2 linked regions of the Homo sapiens genome follow. The protein of the gene in region 2 purifies or fractionates together with the protein of the main gene of each other region. This does not show direct contact. Each region holds a gene or a part of one and is shown on either strand. Other genes may lie near its edges.

The links.
Region 1: the proteins of ANKRD52 (region 2) and PPP6R3 purify together in Homo sapiens (affinity purification with mass spectrometry; 2 studies listed by BioGRID and IntAct, with this or other methods). This does not show direct contact.

The regions. Positions count from the first base shown.
Region 1 is NC_000011.10:68,596,278-68,604,613, reverse strand, and holds part of PPP6R3 (serine/threonine-protein phosphatase 6 regulatory subunit 3), read right to left. Parts: intron 4,274-8,336; coding exon 4,120-4,273; intron 2,752-4,119; coding exon 2,645-2,751; intron 1,273-2,644; coding exon 1,122-1,272; intron 1-1,121.
Region 2 is NC_000012.12:56,241,040-56,249,375, forward strand, and holds part of ANKRD52 (serine/threonine-protein phosphatase 6 regulatory ankyrin repeat subunit C), read right to left. Parts: intron 7,832-8,336; coding exon 7,720-7,831; intron 7,528-7,719; coding exon 7,456-7,527; intron 7,186-7,455; coding exon 6,984-7,185; intron 6,736-6,983; coding exon 6,648-6,735; intron 6,572-6,647; coding exon 6,454-6,571; intron 4,558-6,453; coding exon 4,338-4,557; intron 4,152-4,337; coding exon 4,064-4,151; intron 3,951-4,063; coding exon 3,867-3,950; intron 3,759-3,866; coding exon 3,613-3,758; intron 3,397-3,612; coding exon 3,314-3,396; intron 3,095-3,313; coding exon 3,012-3,094; intron 2,838-3,011; coding exon 2,746-2,837; intron 2,354-2,745; coding exon 2,103-2,353; 3' UTR 1-2,102. UniProt on the Homo sapiens protein: Putative regulatory subunit of protein phosphatase 6 (PP6) that may be involved in the recognition of phosphoprotein substrates.

The sequences.
Region 1 (8,336 bases), on a different chromosome or scaffold from region 2:
TTTATGTATAAATCATAGCCTATCAACAGCGACTATTTATTTATTTGGAATGCTGCATTTGCTAAGGCCACCAGCACAGTGCTGAAGACAAATAGCAACTGTAGGTCCCACTTTCTGGTTCTTGTCTTTAAAGGGAATACTTCTAATGCCTCACTGAAGAATCAAGTCTACTCTAGATTTTCTAGAGATACTTACCAGTTTCACCTATTTACTTTCTATTCCTAGGCTGCAAAGAAAATCATGAACAGCTTTAATTTGTAATCAAATGCTTTTCTCCTTTTGTCTGGGAATTACTCTGAATAATTTTTACCATGTACACACTGGTGTTTACATTGTGTCACTGGAGCACATATCCTTGGTCATGACTTTAAAATACATTGCTACATTTGGTTTGCTAGCTTTTAACTTAAGTTTTGAGAATAATTGCTCATGTATGAAATCAGTCTACAGTCAGTTTTCTTCTTTCACTCCTTGTTTTGTAGTGACCTCGCAATAAGCAGGGAGGCATTCCTTCTTGTAATGGCTGGAATGGTCTCTAAGACTAAAGCTCTAAGCACAGGCTTAGCTTCAGTCCTTAAGTTTTGACAGACATTTTTCCCATTATTCTCTCAGTTTTAGGTTTTTAATATCCATTACAATTCCTTTTTTGAGTTTAGAAGTGAATTTCTAAGGGTCACGTTCTTTTAAAGCTATCATTTTGCTACTGAATTTTCATGACTGCATTATGTCCTGAGATAATCATCTGTATGTTACTGAAAATAAGTAAAGGTTTTTGTAAAACCAGTCGACCTGAAACCGGTTTTCATGGGCCATGCTCTGTAGCCTGTTACACAAGCCAATTTCTATTGTGATTAAAGATTTATCAATTCTCATAGTTCTATCAAACTGCTAGATGTAAAATACAGTCTTCTGAACACATTTATGGGGGAAAAGGCACTTAGGGGCCTAAACTCTCCATCTCTTCATTAAGATTTATTGTGTTTAATGGAGACAACAGAAAGACATCAAGCTAGTATCTGAACATTCATTTGAATCAAATTAAAAATTTTAATGTTTGAGGTTTCTGCCCCACCATCCTCCCAATAACCTGAAGCTACCAGCAGGATCTCACCCCTGGTTACCTTTTGAAGACCGCAGTCTCTGTCTTGGCATCTACAGTGAGGCTGAGCGTTTCCTTCATGCCGCCATTCATCACTGTCTCAGTTACCTTGTCTGTACTTTCTGCATCCTCCTCTCCGTCAGAGCTGGCTTCCATGGCCACACTGCCTGCCGCTGAAAAGAACACAGCTGATGGTCACACACAGCAAGCCCGAAAAGGAACTGGCACCCCACCACTGTACAAACCCATCTACCCAACGTGACATCTACTGCTTGAAGAAAAAAAAGAGTGAGATGGCTTCTGCCTGCTGTTGTCTGGGCCACATTCTTGATGGGGAGAGACTTCTTAAAGATGCCCACTAAAGAGGGGTTTCATGGGTTTTCTTTACTAGAGACTAGCAAGTCGCCTACATCCCTCCCAGCTCAGCGTCCACCTCCATACCCAGCTTCTCCCAGCAGACACTTGTGCTCCTAACTGTTCCAGTGTGGGGCAGAGCAGGCAGTTACACACTCTACCCTCTACTCACTTGTTTTCCTCAGTTGGGCTCTATTTGCTTTGCTTTGTTTTAAAAATTACTTTCTTGTGGTGTTGCTGGTGGATCGTTTCTTTGTTCTCTAATGGGAAGCCAACATAGGTGATGAGCCTGGCTGAGGTGAGGCTTCCTGGATTCAAACATCGACATCACCACTTCCTAGCTGTAGACTACTTGGACAAGGAACCTCATCTATAACCTGAGTTTCCTCATCCAGGAAAGGGGATCAGTGCACCCACTTACAGAACCACTGAGGAGTCAAATGCGGGAATCTGTATCAAATGTTCAGGAGGATGATGAAACCAGCATTAGTTATTGGTTTTATTCCTTTCCCTTGCCCCTGGGAAGGAGGGTTCTCACACCCTCTACCAAAACCTCATTTCATTTTCTAAGAACTCACTCCTTAAGCCCACCTCATGATTCGTGCCCTCCACATCCTTTTGGTTCCCATCACACTCCCTTTGCTAGCATCCCCCTCCTCCCAAAGCCCCGTCCATCAAGGTGAAAACAGTTCAGGGCCGTGCAAGGAACACATTTGACTAGGTAGAGTAATAGGAAAACCCACTGGAACTTTAGAGATTCCCAGGACTATTCAATCTGCTTACAATGGCGAAGTGAAAATAACCAGCCCCATAGCTCTAAACAAACCCAGATACACCTACATGCTTGAGCAAAGCAAACTCCAAGGGACAACTACACACAGGCTTGGCTGCACACGTCTAATTCCAGTTTTATTCACCCTGGGTACTATGGGCTTAGGCCTTCTTCCCTCTAGACCTCAGTTTCCTAATCTGCACACTGCATGCCTGGTAACTTAGAGCCCTTACTCTTTCCAGAGTCAGCATGCTGTGGTTCTAGAAGGACAGGCACAATTTCTTTCATCAGCTGCCCTGTGGACATCAGACCCACCATCTCACTCCCGGGCTCCACTAGCCCCTGAGCCTGAGAATCAGGTCTGGTTTGACAAAGCAGCCACGTGACCCTGGCGTGTACCCAGGCCTCTCTGCACGCACCTTCTGGCTGCACTGCCAGGGCAGCCGCACTGGGAGTCAGAGGGTCCATGGGTTCAGTGCTGGTTTCCATTTCCACTGGAGAATTACTCCTTAAAGAATCTTTTGTGCTTTCAAAAAAGAGAAAATTCAGATATTAGCAGCAGGGAATGGTCCTCAGTTACCCCAAGATTCACAATAAGCCTTTACAAGTAAGTTTTTGTTAGGAGACATTAGCATCTGTGTAAGAGTCACTGGGTTACAAACTCCAGTGACACATGGATCTAAGTGCCAGTAGCTGTTTGAAGAAGGACATGAGTGCGGGCAGGCAAATGTTCTGTTAAGCCAGCAAGGCAGTAAGACAGGGACTTTGTAAAGCATTCTAGACAGGCTCATCATGTCCCAACTTCTCATCCCACCATAGTCACTAGGAGGCTCCCAGAGCTTGAACAGCAAAGACGTACATTGTGCAATGGCAACGGTATTTATCAGGTTGACTGGTTTTACAAAAACCTTTACTTATTTTCAGCCACACTGCCTGGGAGAGACTGGCCCTCTTAATGATATTTGTTGTTGGAACTGTGGAAACATAGTAAAAAAACACCAAATGCCTGAGCAGTAAGGGGTAGGGGTGAGGGAGATCATTACACTTCCTCTTTTATCCCTCATTCCCACAAACTCAGAGACGTGCACACAGAGGGTAAAGAGAAGCAAGCTGCTTCAATCACACCCTCAAGTAACCAAAGGCTCTTATCCTCGGGTTATAAACAGACCAAAAAAAGGAGTAGGCGGAAATGTATGTCCTGTACTGAAAAGCGGGGTAGACGAAATAACTCATTATTTTGGAGACATTTTTCACAAATCTCACTTGTACCTCTGAGTAGTAACTTAATGCTATTACTATGGTTACTACAAAGCAACATGGGTTTCAGCCTATTCTTTGGTTTGTCTAAGACACTAACTGTCAGCCCAAAACAGCTTGTCTTCCTATCTTCCGAGTTACCAATGATTGGGAGCCCTTAATTGACAGCACTGGACTAGCTGCAAGTGAACTGTAAGTTCATATTATCTACTGAATTCAAGATCCATTTTGTTTGCCTGCCACACCCCACACAGAGGTGCTGTGCCTGTCAGGATTTCTTGGCTTCACCTCATTCCTCTTCTCCTCAATTCTGTCCTGACAGCTCTATGAAGCCAGAAAAGCTCACGGAGATGCATCTTCTGCTGCGTCCTGCTAACTCCCTGGGACCGCATCCTCACAAGCTACTTTGTTCAAGAACTACTCCCATTTCCAATTAATCCAGGAGGAAAGGAAAGGAAGATGGTGATTGTTCTTCTTACAACACAGAGCTGTGTTAGTATGCTGATGTTTAATCTTTTTCAGGGCAGTATATTCAACTTGGAAGTCAGTCAAGGTGAAGAACACACGTTAACAGCAAACACCTGACCATTCCCAGGTCCCCCGTGGAAGGGTGTAGAGACAGCACATGTTCGCTCACCTCAGGGAAGACGTGAACTCTGAAAAAGAAGCCCAGCCCGTCTCTTTAGTTGGCATCGGCTCCTCTGTGCTCCAGACATCAGATCCCACAGAATCCAATGGAGCACCGTGGGTTGTTTCCATTGGGACATCAAAGTTAGCTGACCAGTTGGGTGCTAAAAAGAGGGGAGAAATTCTATTTGGAAAACACTTCAGTCGTTTCATGTACCACAAGGTATTTATCAAAAACACATTAGCAAAAGAGACTGGAGCTGTGGGAGAAAGACACTCTCACCAATGAGGGCAGGAGCGGACAGGGCACAGCCACCTGGAGGGCACTCTAACAATGATCCCACATTCTCAAACCTCCCATTTCTTTTTATTATTATTTTTTTGAGATGGAGTCTCGCTCTGTCGCCCAGGCTGGAGTGCAGTGGCACGATCTCCGCTCACTGCAAGCTCCGCCTCCCGGGTTCACGCCATTCTCCTGCCTCAGCCTCCTGAGTAGCTGGGATTACTGGCACCCGCCATCACGCCTGGCTAATTTTTTGTATTTTTAGTAGAGACAGGTTTCACTGTGTTAGCCAGGATGGTCTCAATATCCCGACCTCGTGAACCGCCCGCCTTGGCCTCCCAAAGTGCTGGGATTACAGGCGTGAGCCACCGCGCCTGGCCTCAAACCTCCCATTTCTAACAACTGTTCCAAAAGAAATACTACACAGAGATTCAAAGCTACATGCACAAAGAGGGATTAATGTTAATTTCTTAGTTTTGACAAATGTACCATGGCTGTATTCATACTTGGGGAAGCTAAGTGAAGGATATATGGAGACTTACTATCTTGGCAATGTTTCTATAAATCTAAATTATTCAAAAGTAAAAAGGTTATTTTTCTAAAAAAAGAACATGTTGATTATTCAACTCCAATAAACTAGAAATAACCTTAATGCTTCCCAGTCCGGGTCTGACTGCACTTCGCCCATTCTGCGGGCTCCCTGCAGTGCACTGCAGTTAGGCTTCCTAAGTCCTGCAGAACCAGGTCTGGCCTCAGAGGCTGAAGCGGCAGGACTTGCTTGAGCACACTTACGGTCTGTGGGGCTCTTCTTACTATGCTGCCTGCTGGCCAAGTTTGGGTCTAATCTGCAGGTCTCTCCTTAAATGTCACCTCCTCAGACATGTGTCCCTTCTGATGAAGTCAGGTCACTGTGGATCTGCTCTAACTGCACACCATGCTTTTCCTTCACAGAGTGCTGAATCCTCAATTCTTTGCTGGGGACAAGCCAGATGTGGGAACCACTGCATTCCATCAGGGATATTATCATAATTAGGAATCTCTAGGTTGCAGGAAGGAATGCTAGGGAAACTGGTATAAGTTATTTAAGGGCTTAACCCAGACACAAGTGACTAAGATTAAGAAGTACCCGTGTAGAATAGAAATGTTCTGAGTTTAAAGACAGACTTGACTGTGACTTTCCCCAAGATATCTGACTTCATCTGTTTGATTTCATAATGACTATTCACTTAGCAAAGATCACAGGAGGGCCTGCACAGAGTAGGCATTTAATTAGGGTGCGCTCCATGCTTCTTGCCCACCTACCTGTGTGAGTGTCACAGGGCTCCACTGACACCAAGAAGGAATAAATGCTTGAATGTTTGAAAATCTCACCTGAAACCTCCAAAAAGTCAACTTGACAGTTATTTTTGCCTGCCCACTCTATGCAAAGCTCTGGAATCATTCTATCTGAGTTCTACTCTACAACTAAATTATATTACACACAAATGACTTTTCTGTTATCTCTTTGAGATAGTCTTTCCCAGATGAGCTCCTCAGAGTCCGTGTAACATTTTAAATGATTCTGAATGTCCACAAAACCTCCAACAGAAGCCACAGAGACTGGTGGAATGGCAGAGGCTCTCTGGGGCAACCCTGTAGCCCTGAAGCCCTGAGAGAGAATCTTCCCCAACCCTACCCACTTGTGTCTCCAGAGATCTGAAGATGCAAAAGCTGTCTTTCCCAAGGAACAGAGAAGCAGGAGGCCTGGTTCCCTGCCACACTTAACCCCGGGAGGTAGGTAAACGCGAACCTCATCCAGGGTGCTCGCCTCCTCGCTGCTTATCCCTACACCCAGGCCCACAGTCACAGCAGCAGCGGCACGCAGTCCAGCCAAGTGTGTTTCCCTCCCTGTCACTTAACCATACCCAGCCTGCTAAAAGAACCAAAGATTCCAGAATGTCATTCGGCCTTCGAACAAAAGGAAATCCTGTATACACCACAGCAGGGATGAACTCTGAAGACATTATGCTAAGGGAAACAAGCCAGTCACAAAGATAAATACTGTATGATTCCATTTATATGAGATCCCTAGACTAGTCAACCCCAGAGAAACAGAGAGTAGAATGGAGGCTGCTAGGGACTGGGGAAGTAGAAATGAGGAATTGTTTAATGGGTACAGAGTTTTAGTTTAGGATGAAAAAGTTTTAAAGACCTGTTACACAACAGTGTGAATATACTACTGAACTGTACTTTTTTTTTTTCCCCAGATGGAGTCTCACTCTGTCGCCCAGGCTGGAGTGCACAGCATGATCTTGGCTCACTGTAAGCTCCATCTCCCAGGTTCAAGCGATTCTCCTGCTTCAGCCTCCCGAGTAGCTGGGACTATGGGTGTATGCCACCATGCCCAGCTTTTTTTTTTTTTTTTCAGTAGAGACAGGGTTTCACCCTGTTGGCCAGGGTGGTCTCGAACTCCTGGCCTCAAGTGATCCGCCTGACTCGGCCTCCAGAAAGTGCTGGGATTACAGGCCTGAGCCACTGCACCCAACCTTGAACTGTACATTAAAAAAACCAACAACAACAACAACAAACCCTACAGATTCCAGAGCCAACAGATCAGGGCATCTGCCCTGTCTCCTCCTCACACCTCCCTGCTGCCTGGAGCCCATCTTGCAGTTCTCATTATTTCTCATGTGTAACAGTTCAATGTCTTCATGGTTCTCCTGTCTCTACCATGCGTTTTCTCGTCCATTTTTCACTGTTGCCATGAATGTCTTGAAACAGAACCAATAATGATCTTCTTAGTCAAATCCTCAAGGGCTCCCTACAACCTTCAGAATACAACTCCTGATCTGGCCTCTGGCCTTCGCTCCCGCCACCTCATCCCCGAGCCATGCAAAACAGCACGTTCTGGGCATTTGGATTAGCTGTTTTCTCTCTCGCACGGGCAAATCCCTACGGGTCCTTCAGCCTCATACCCACCTGCCTCTACAAAGAGGCCTAATGGAAGGCTCCCCTCTTCTAGCACCCTGTACCCATTCCCCTGCACTGCCCATCTGCTTCCCCAGCCGACCCCAAGCCCCTGGAGGCAGAGTCTGTGGCCCGTTCACAGTTACAGGCCTAACACCTGGCATACAGTAGGAACTTGACAAAGGCATGTTGACTGAAACTGAATTACGGACAGAAAAGTCCACTTCCTCCTCCTGAGGGTGGGCTGGAAAACAGGCAGCAGAAAGAAGATCTCTCTTCTTCTCCCATCCCGTTTCCTTATCTGCAACATGTGGCAGTTTGCTGGATGACTGATCTGGTCCCATCTAGCTCTGAAGTCACCACAAGGTCCACCCTAGCTGGGCTTCAGCCTCTGGGATGAACATAAAAAAGGCCTTGCAGGGCAATCAGAGACTGGCCAGGCTTGGGGCAAGCCTCGCTATCAGCCCATATGGCTCCTTCACATGAACGTTTGTTTCCCAAACCTTTAGAAGTTTTTGAAGTATTTTTAAAAGGCCAGCTAACTCAAGTCTTCCTAGCAAGGAGCAGGGCACAAGCAAGCACTCAGCTGGACAAGTTTCAAGGCTGTGAGCTTCTGAAATCAACTACGAAGAACGCACTGAAATGCTTGTTAAGCTAAGGCTGCGTCCCCTGGCTGATTCCACTCACGAAGCCACACAACACAACCATGTCCTCCTCTTCCCACCAACACAGGGCCTTTTCCTTCTGCAAGAGCACACAGGGTACACAGCCAGAAGACTGACCTAGCAGTGGGCTCTGTCCTCCAGCCAGACCCACACAGCTGACGTTCATTTCCTACCAGGAAGGGGAGGTACCTTATCCACAAATGCATTCTGTGCTCCTTCCCTGAAGCTGTCTCTGAAACTTAAACCTCCAAGAGGAATTCACTTGACAACACGCTTCAACCCAACCTTTCCTTCAGATATCATCTCAGATGCTGTGAACTGCTCCTTTGCCAA
Region 2 (8,336 bases):
GGGAAGGCAAGCTTTGCAGAGCCAGCAGGGTTGGGGATGGGGGCTGCAGCCCTTAAGAGAGGTCACATTGATTGTCATATAGGGGAGGACACGGTGTGGAGGGAGGTGGGCAAGAGGGGCGTCACAAGGCCCTTTGGCTTTGAAAATAAAAATAAAAACTAAAAGCTGCACAATCCTTCTCATCAATAATGGTCATTTGGAAGCCTTGAAATGATTTAGGAACTGAGGGTTGGGAGAAGCAAAACACAGAGAGACAGGGGATCAAAAGGGACCATGAAAAGATAAGGACTTGGACAACACCCCAGGCTTCTGGAAACCAGCATGAGGTATGGTTAAAGGTATCCGTTGGGGAGGGAGGGGGTCCCTGGGACGCCCCCCTCCCCTCAGCCCACCCTTGACAAGGGTGGCAAGACATTCAGGGTATACAACTAAAAGATGGGTAAGACTGTGAATAAAGCAAACTTGAGTAGGGGAGGGAGGCTGAAGGATCCCCCCTCAGGGGAGACCCTGTACTGTGTAAACGAAGCCTGTCCAGTTCTCAGGGGACAATACTGATGGCAGCCAAACTGGGCAAGGATGCAGTGTGGGGGCGGAGGGGGCATGACCTCTATTCAAGTTCTGTGTCTTGGCCCCTGGCTGAGGTATTGAGTGTGAGGAAGGGAACACTGGGCTGCAGGAGTGGGTCCAACTGTCCAGGAGGCTGCACTAGGAGATGGGTGGACAGAGCACTTAAAGGGACCAGGGCCAAATTCAATGCTACATTTAGAGAGAAAACTGCCCCCTCTTCACTCCAGCCCAGTTTGGCTTTTGGGGTGCGACTTTAGAAATCTTATCAGTGCAGCCCCCAGCTCAATCCCATCTTTCCTCCCTGCTGGGAAGGCAGGGACCAAGCCCCAGTACCTATTCATCTCTCTCTAGGTCAGAGCTTCTTCCTCACACTGGAGGGGAAGCCTGGGTCCCGAGTAGCCACGGTCCCTTGTCGGCCCTGCCCCTCCTACCATCTTTGGCTTCAGATCAGGAGTGACTGGGGCAGTGGGTACTCTTGGACATAACGGAAGGTGGAGGCAGATAGGGAGCACAGATAAACTATGGGCTTGGCGGCACAGGAGGAAGAACATGGTCCCTCCCTCCATATACATGCAAACACATGCCTGAAACACAGTGGACATACTAGGGCTGTGGTTTTGAAATGGGCAGGAAATTAATTTGTTTCTTCCCCTAAAGGATAAAACGCTTACTTAAAAATTCATGACAAGCCTCAAAGTTCAAGGGAAGGAGAGCCAGGGCAGGAATGACCACAGGCTCTGCCCTCCCAAAAGAAGATAAAAGAAAGAAGCAAGGTTAAAGTGCGTGGTTAGGGGCCAGGCTAGGAGTGGGAGGGAATGGGGAGGGGGCAGGCTGTGGGGGCAGAACCAGCCCTTGATTTGCATATGAGGAGCCAGGGGAGAGTGCAGGATTGGGGCCCAGGTACAGTAGTTGCTGCTTCAAGTGTTTTGCATTTGAACTTTAGGGGTGATAGGGTACAGAAGTGGGGAAAAAGCTCCAGGCCCCAGTGCTAAATATCCTCCCCCCTCATCCTCTAGCTGCCCCTGAAGGGGGGAGGGGGACACCCCCAGAGTGCTCACACAGTACCAGAAATTAAGGCTTCTCACTGCTGCGGGGATGGAGGGACCGGCCGAGCAGGGAGGCAGTGATGGGTATGGAAGAAGAGGGGATCTGCCTGGCAGTAGGGGCAGGGGAGAAGGGGGACACAGAGAGGAGTCCCCAGGGAAGAGTCGGGGGAGCTGGCAGCAGAAAGAGGGAACCAAGAGATGGAGTCAAAGAGTGGGGGAGCCAGGCATTTAGCAATCATTTTGGGACACTTGGCAGAAGGGGTCGCCCTGGGGGTACCAAGGGCCTGGGGTGCTCCCTGTCAGTCCCAGACCCCTGCCAGGCCAAGATGGTGTGGCAAAGGGGTGAGCAGCTGCTCCCCAGGGCTTCCTTCCCCTCCGCCCCCTCCACCCAGTCGTGTTCTCCTTTAAAGTGCCCTAAATGTTTAGACTTTTTCTAAATAAATAGAATTAGATATCAAGCCACCGGCGGGGGAGGGACACTGGAGGGGGCTACTCAGAGTAGCAGCCATCTAACCCAATGGCGCCGGGCCGCTCCTGGCTGTAGGGGCAGGAGGCCCCATGGGGCAGGGCGCCGCAGCCACCCACCGTCTTGGCGGCTGCAATGCTGCAGTTCTTGAGCAGGCTGAAGCTGAAAGGACTGACGGCGTCCTTGGGTGGGAAAGGCTTCATGGTGGAAAGGATCAAGGCCAGGCAGTCTGCCACATCTTTGTTGGGGGCACAGGCCAGTGCTGGGGTGTGACCTGCAGGGCCAAGGGGGAGAACTGAGGCATAGAGTCCTGTATCCTAGCCAGCCTCCCCCAAGCCCTGAAGTCTCTTCTCTGTGGAGGGAGCCAAGGCAGGCAGGTACCCAGCAGCGGCAGAATCCAAGGGTGACGAGGGCCCAGGAAGGCTGACAGGCAGATTCTCTAAGTACGGGTTAAAGGGCGGGCATGGGAGTCAAAGCCTAGGGTGTGGAGTCCTCCTGACCCTGCAGGCTCCCCTCTGAGACTCCAGAGTACTGGTGTGGGCTCCCTGCTCTGAAGAGTTCCCTTGGGAAGAAAATCCCATGTATAGCAAGATTAAGAAGTCACCTCCTGAAGAATGTCCCTGACCCCAAACCCAAGAGAGGCATGGGGCCCCAGACCCCACCCACCTTCTTCATCCACAGCCAGCACTGTGGCCCCATGACTCAGCAGGGCCTGTACCACAGAAGCTAGACCATTCCGGGCAGCAATGTGGAGTGGCCTTGGAAAAAAGGAAAAAGAAGGAGCTTGATGCTAAGCTGCCCTTCCACCTCCAGACAGGGTGGCAAGGGTGCTGAACAAATACAATGGGCTCCAGAGAGCCTCTGAACAGCGGCCACTCTTTCATCACCCACTGGCCTCCCCCAGCCAGGAGCCCCCTTCCCCAGGCACTCACATCTGCAGCGCACTGTTGGTAGCATTGATAAGGCCAAGGTCTTGGGTTTCTGCCAGGATCATGAGGGCACATTTCTCATGGCCCTGAGGGAGGGGAACAGAGAGTGGAGACTTGTGAAGTAGAAATGTGGCAGGGTGCAGGGCAGGAGTTGGGGAGAGTAACAGGAGGACAAACAGCTGCCCAACCAGTCGGATAGGCTGGACAATCCTCACTTCTGCCCCAGTCCCCTCTGCAACCGAGACTTACCTCTCTTCATCAAGCTCTGCCCCTTATGCAGTCCCCCAATCACTTCAGGTAAGTACCTTGCTACAAGCCAAGTGGAGGGCCGTGTTCTTGTTCTCATCCAACACAGTAAGGTCTGCCTTCCCTCGATACAGCAGAAATTCTACGAGAGAAATGTGATAGAGGGACTGACCCCTCCCTCCAGAGCAGTAGCCATCCTGGCTCTCCACTTTGCATCCCGTCTGCAGATGGCGAGACATCCAAAGACAACCCTCTTGCTTTCTGAACCCCAGCCCCAGCCAGCCTCCACAGGCAGGGCTGACCCATCCTGCAAATGCCCCAGGGGAGCTCCTCCCTTCCACAAGTGGCCCCTACACACCCACAGCAGCGGTCTGCCCGTTCTCAGCCGCCGTCATGAGCGCAGTGCGGCCAGTGTGGTCAGTGGCGTTCACCTCAGCTTGATGCTGCAGCAGCATCCGGAGCCCAGAGACATTGTCCGCGAAGGCAGCGGCGTGAAGGGGGGTCCTGTAAGGCAGGGATCAGGGTAGATTAAAATAGGGAAGAGTATACTGCCCAAGCAGAAAGGGGAAGCCAGAGGCAACTGGGATTCTTCCCAAGTCTTCCATCACTCACCGTCCTTTGGCATCTCGGCTGTTCACAATCTTGGCACCCAGAGCTCCCAGTAGCATCTCTGTGGTGCTGTCTTGGTTATTAATCCTAGAGGAAGAGGGAGGAGGGGTCATCAGGAAGGACAAGGGAAGTAGACTACCTGTCCTAAGCTCAAGTCATGGGCCCTCGCGAGAAGGGCTGATGCAGCAGAAGGGACTTACACTGCACAGTGCAAAGGAGTGAAGGGGTTTCCTTCCAGGTACGAAAACGGGCTGTGTTCAAGTAACAACTCCAGACAATCTTCATGTCCTGGGCACGAGGAAGGAAGAGTAGTGATGGAGAAAAACGGCAAGGTTCCCTGTCTGTCCTGTGTCTTGACACTCCATTCCACTTCCAGATTCAGATCAACCCAGGTCCCCCCCAACAACCCACCTGTCCCCCTCTACACACACTCCAACACATGCTCCTGTGCCTGTGGAGGCCCCAGTCTAGTACCAGTGTAGGAGGCCCAGTGCATGGGCGAGTATCCGCTGTAATCCACCCCGGCATCCAGGGGATCTGTGGAAAGGGCAGCCTGCAGCAGGGTCCGCAGTACTGCAGTGTGGCCACAGGCTGAGGCCAGGTGAATGGGCGTGCGGCCCTTAAAGTCTCGGCACAGCACAAATGCGTCGTGGTCCAGCAGGGCAGCCAGGCAGTCCTCACAGCCAGTCACTGCCTGTGAGTAACATGGGGGTGTGAGGGGGATGAAAAGCTCCTCCTTTTCCACTGGCCTGTTGCTGGAGTCTGGCTCAGGAGTAAGAACCACTTCCAGGGCTCCAATCCTTGTCTTTTTTTTTTTTTTTTTTTTTTTGGAGTCGGAGTCTTGCTCTGTCGCCCAGGCTGGAGTGCAGTGGCATAATCTCGGCTCACTGCAACCTCTGCCTCCCCGGTTCAAGCGATTCTCCTGCCTCAGCCTCCCAAGTAGCTGGGATTACAGGCAGGTGCCACCATGCCCGGCCAATTTTTTTGTATTTTTAGTAGAGACAGGGTTTCACCACGTTAGCCAGGATGGTCTTGATCTCCTCACCTCGTGATCCGCCTGCCTCGGCCTCCCAAAGTGCTGGGATTACAGGCATGAGCCACTGGCCTCAATCCTTGTCTTTACAACAATAATTCTTTCTTTTTTTGAGACGGAGTCTCACTCTGTCACCCAGGCTGGAGTGCAATGGTGCGATCTTGGCTCACTGCAACCTCTGCCTCCCAGGTTCCAGCAATTCTCCTGTCTCAGCCTCCCAAGTAGCTGGGATTATAGGCATGCACCACCATGCCCAATTAATTTTTGTATTTTTAGTAGAGGCGAAGTTTCACCATGTTGGCCAGGCTGGTCTCAAACTCCTGACTTCAGGTGATCTGCCCGCCTTGGCCTTCCAAAGTGCTGGGATTACAGACGTGAGCCACCATGCCCGGCCCTTTACAACAACAATTCTAAGTATTAGGGACCCACATCTCCCTCCTTGACTCTCTCTATGCCAGCAGACAATCAGGATACTAAGAGTTAATACTGGAGCTCTGGAGTTAATACTGGAAAGACTAAATGGAGAGAAGGAGACTAAGGGATCAAAAAATCTTATGGGAGGAGGAGGCAGCTTAGGACAGGTGGTCACGGAAGAGGATCTAGGTTGTGGCGACATTATGCGATGGGTTGGGGCCAGCAGGGTATCCCAGGTAGAGTCTGGGTGGTGAGCACTCAGTTGTACGTGATTACAAAGCACAGATATTGGCCAGGCACAGTGGCTCACGCCTGTAATCCCAACCCTTTGGGAGGCCAAGGCGGGTGGATCTCATCATCAGGAGATTGAGACTACCCTGGCTAACACGGTGAAACCCTGTCTCTACTAAAAATACAAAAATTAGCCAGGCGTGGTGGCAGGCGCCTGTAATCCCAGCTACTCGGGAGGCTGAGGCAGGAGAATTGCTTGAACCCAGGAGGCGGAGGTTGCAGTGAGCCGAGATCACGCCACTGCACTCCAGCCTGGGTGACAGAGCGAGACTCTATCTCAATAATAATAATAATAATAATAATAATAATAATAATAATAATAATAATAATAATAAACAAAGCACAGATATCAGGGAAATCAGCTGGGGACGTCAGGAACTCATCCTGGAGCAAGCACAAAGCTCAATAAAATCCTGGGCACAGCGTGGGTCTGGTGGCTCATGCCTGTAATCCCAGCACTTCGGGAGGCCAAGGTGGGGGGATCACTTGAACCCAGGAGTTCAAGACCAGCTTGGGCAAGATGGTAAGACCCCCATATCTACAAAAAATACAAAAATTAGCTGGGCATGATGGCATGTGCCTACAGTTTCAGCTACTTAGGAGGCTGAGGTGCGAGAATCACCTGAGCCCAGGAAGTCAAGGCTGCAGTGAGCTGTGATAGTGTCACTGCACTCCAACCTGGGCAATGGGAGTGAGACCCTGTCTCAAAAAAAAAAAAAAAAAAGAAAAAGAAAAAAGACGGCACAAAATCCTGGCTTGCCTCCTAGACAATTGGATTCCCTACTGCTGGTGAGTCCCATGCTCCCACACTGAGGCCCATGTGCAAACAATCCCCCCTAGAAGCTCACTCACCCCGCGGTGGAGGGCAGTGCGGCCCCGGAGGTCAGCAGCATCAGCTGTGGATCCTTTCTCTAGCAGCAGATGTACACAGTCCACATGGCCATTCATGATGGCCAGCATCAGTGGGGTCCTACAGAAGGGCAGGAGGAGGAGTGAGGATCCCGCAAGGACTGGAAAACCTGCACCCCACCCTGGCCCACACTCACTGTCCATAGGCATCCATGACATCTGTGATGTCAGCTCGTTCCCCACTGTCGATCAGCAAGTGCAGGGAGTCAGTGTGGCCAGAGGCAGCTAGGGGAAAGGGACCCCGTGTCAGGGCAGGGCCAGGAGGAAGAAGGGAGGCAAGGTCAAGCCTAAAGGACTTGGGGTCAATGTTACAGAAAGACCTGGGCCAGGGAGAAATCTCTGAGGATAGGAAGCTATGAATCAGGGCTTGAAGTCTCCATTCTCCTCACCCTACTCCACTTTCCAGCCCCATTCCCATCCAGGAGGGATCTGGCATGGCAAGGGTAGGGCAGCAGCCTAAAGTGGGCACTAACCAGCAGCGTGCAGGGGTGTCCACTTGCGCTTGCGCTCCTTGATGAGGGCAGAGGCGCCGTGGGCTGTAAGCACCTCCACACACTCAGTAGAGCCGCGCTCCGTGGCCAGGAAGAGTGCGGTCCGGCCCTTGTGGTCCCTTACGTCCAGATTCACCAGCGTCTCCGCCAGCGTCTTCAAGGCTTCACAGTGACCGTTGTAGGCCTGGCAAGGTGCAGGCAACCAGTGCACACAGCTCGGGACCTTCCCTGCTCCTCCCTTCCCCTTCTCTGCTCTTGGGGTCCCTGGGAAGCTCAAGGTCTTAGTCCTTGACAAGCTCCTTGGGCCCCTTAAGGCTTCCTACCCTGCACTGTGCTTATCCCCTCTCCCACAAAAAGGCAGAAGGAAGGATAACTTCACAAGTGCTGGCACCTTTGTTAGGGCCTGGGAACAGGTAGGACAAGGAAGGCAACAGAAAAAAGACGTGGGACTCACAGCTAAGTGCAAAGGGCTGACTGGAATGGTGCTCTCCACATCCTCCAGGCAGTTAAAGGACATTTCTAAGAGCTGCAAAGGACAGGAAAGTAGGTGCTGAGACTCTGGAACTCCCAAGATAGTACCCCAGTCCCCGACTCGCAGTAATCCCCACTAAGCCTCTGGATCCAAAGACCACATTTGATTGAACCCTTAGTTTTGGAATCCACAAACCCTGTGCCCTGCCCCTGCCTCCCCTCCTGCAGGCCGGGCCCCAACACATACCAGTTCGAGGTTCTGTCTGTTGCCATAGGCGGCTGCATAGTGCACAGCTGTGTAGCCCTGCCTGTCCCGCAGGGAGGGGTCTGCACCGTTATCCAGTAAGAACTCCAGACAGCTGGGGAGCCGGGGGTAGACTGTGAGGCAGGGACAGGCCCAGCCCAGGAGGGCACAGTTCTGGGAGGGCCAGAGGAGAGGACCAAGGCCCTCCAGGCCTACCTGGCCGCCACCCGTCCTCAGCTCTAGGTAGGTTCTCTAAATCCTACCCATTCTTCAATGGCAGCTCCAGACCCACTTTACCTTCTCAAGGTCTGCCCTGAACCCCTCTGGCTTCAATGCCCTCCTTTATCCTCTGAATGCTCTCCTAGAGAACCTAGAGCATGATGTTCAGTTATCAGCCTTCTGCTGACCAACATGCTTTCCCCACCTCCAGGCACGCCAACCCCTGCCCTAGGATGCTTTCTCCTCCCAGCCCACCCGAATAAGTCCTGTTCATCTCAAACTCAGTCCCAGCTTCTCTCCTCTGTGAGGCCTTTCCCAGCCTTCCCTGGGGAAGATGCCTCTTCCTCTGTGCTCCCTTGGCAGTCTTCTCATACCTTAGTAGTAGTTGTAGTAGTAGTAAT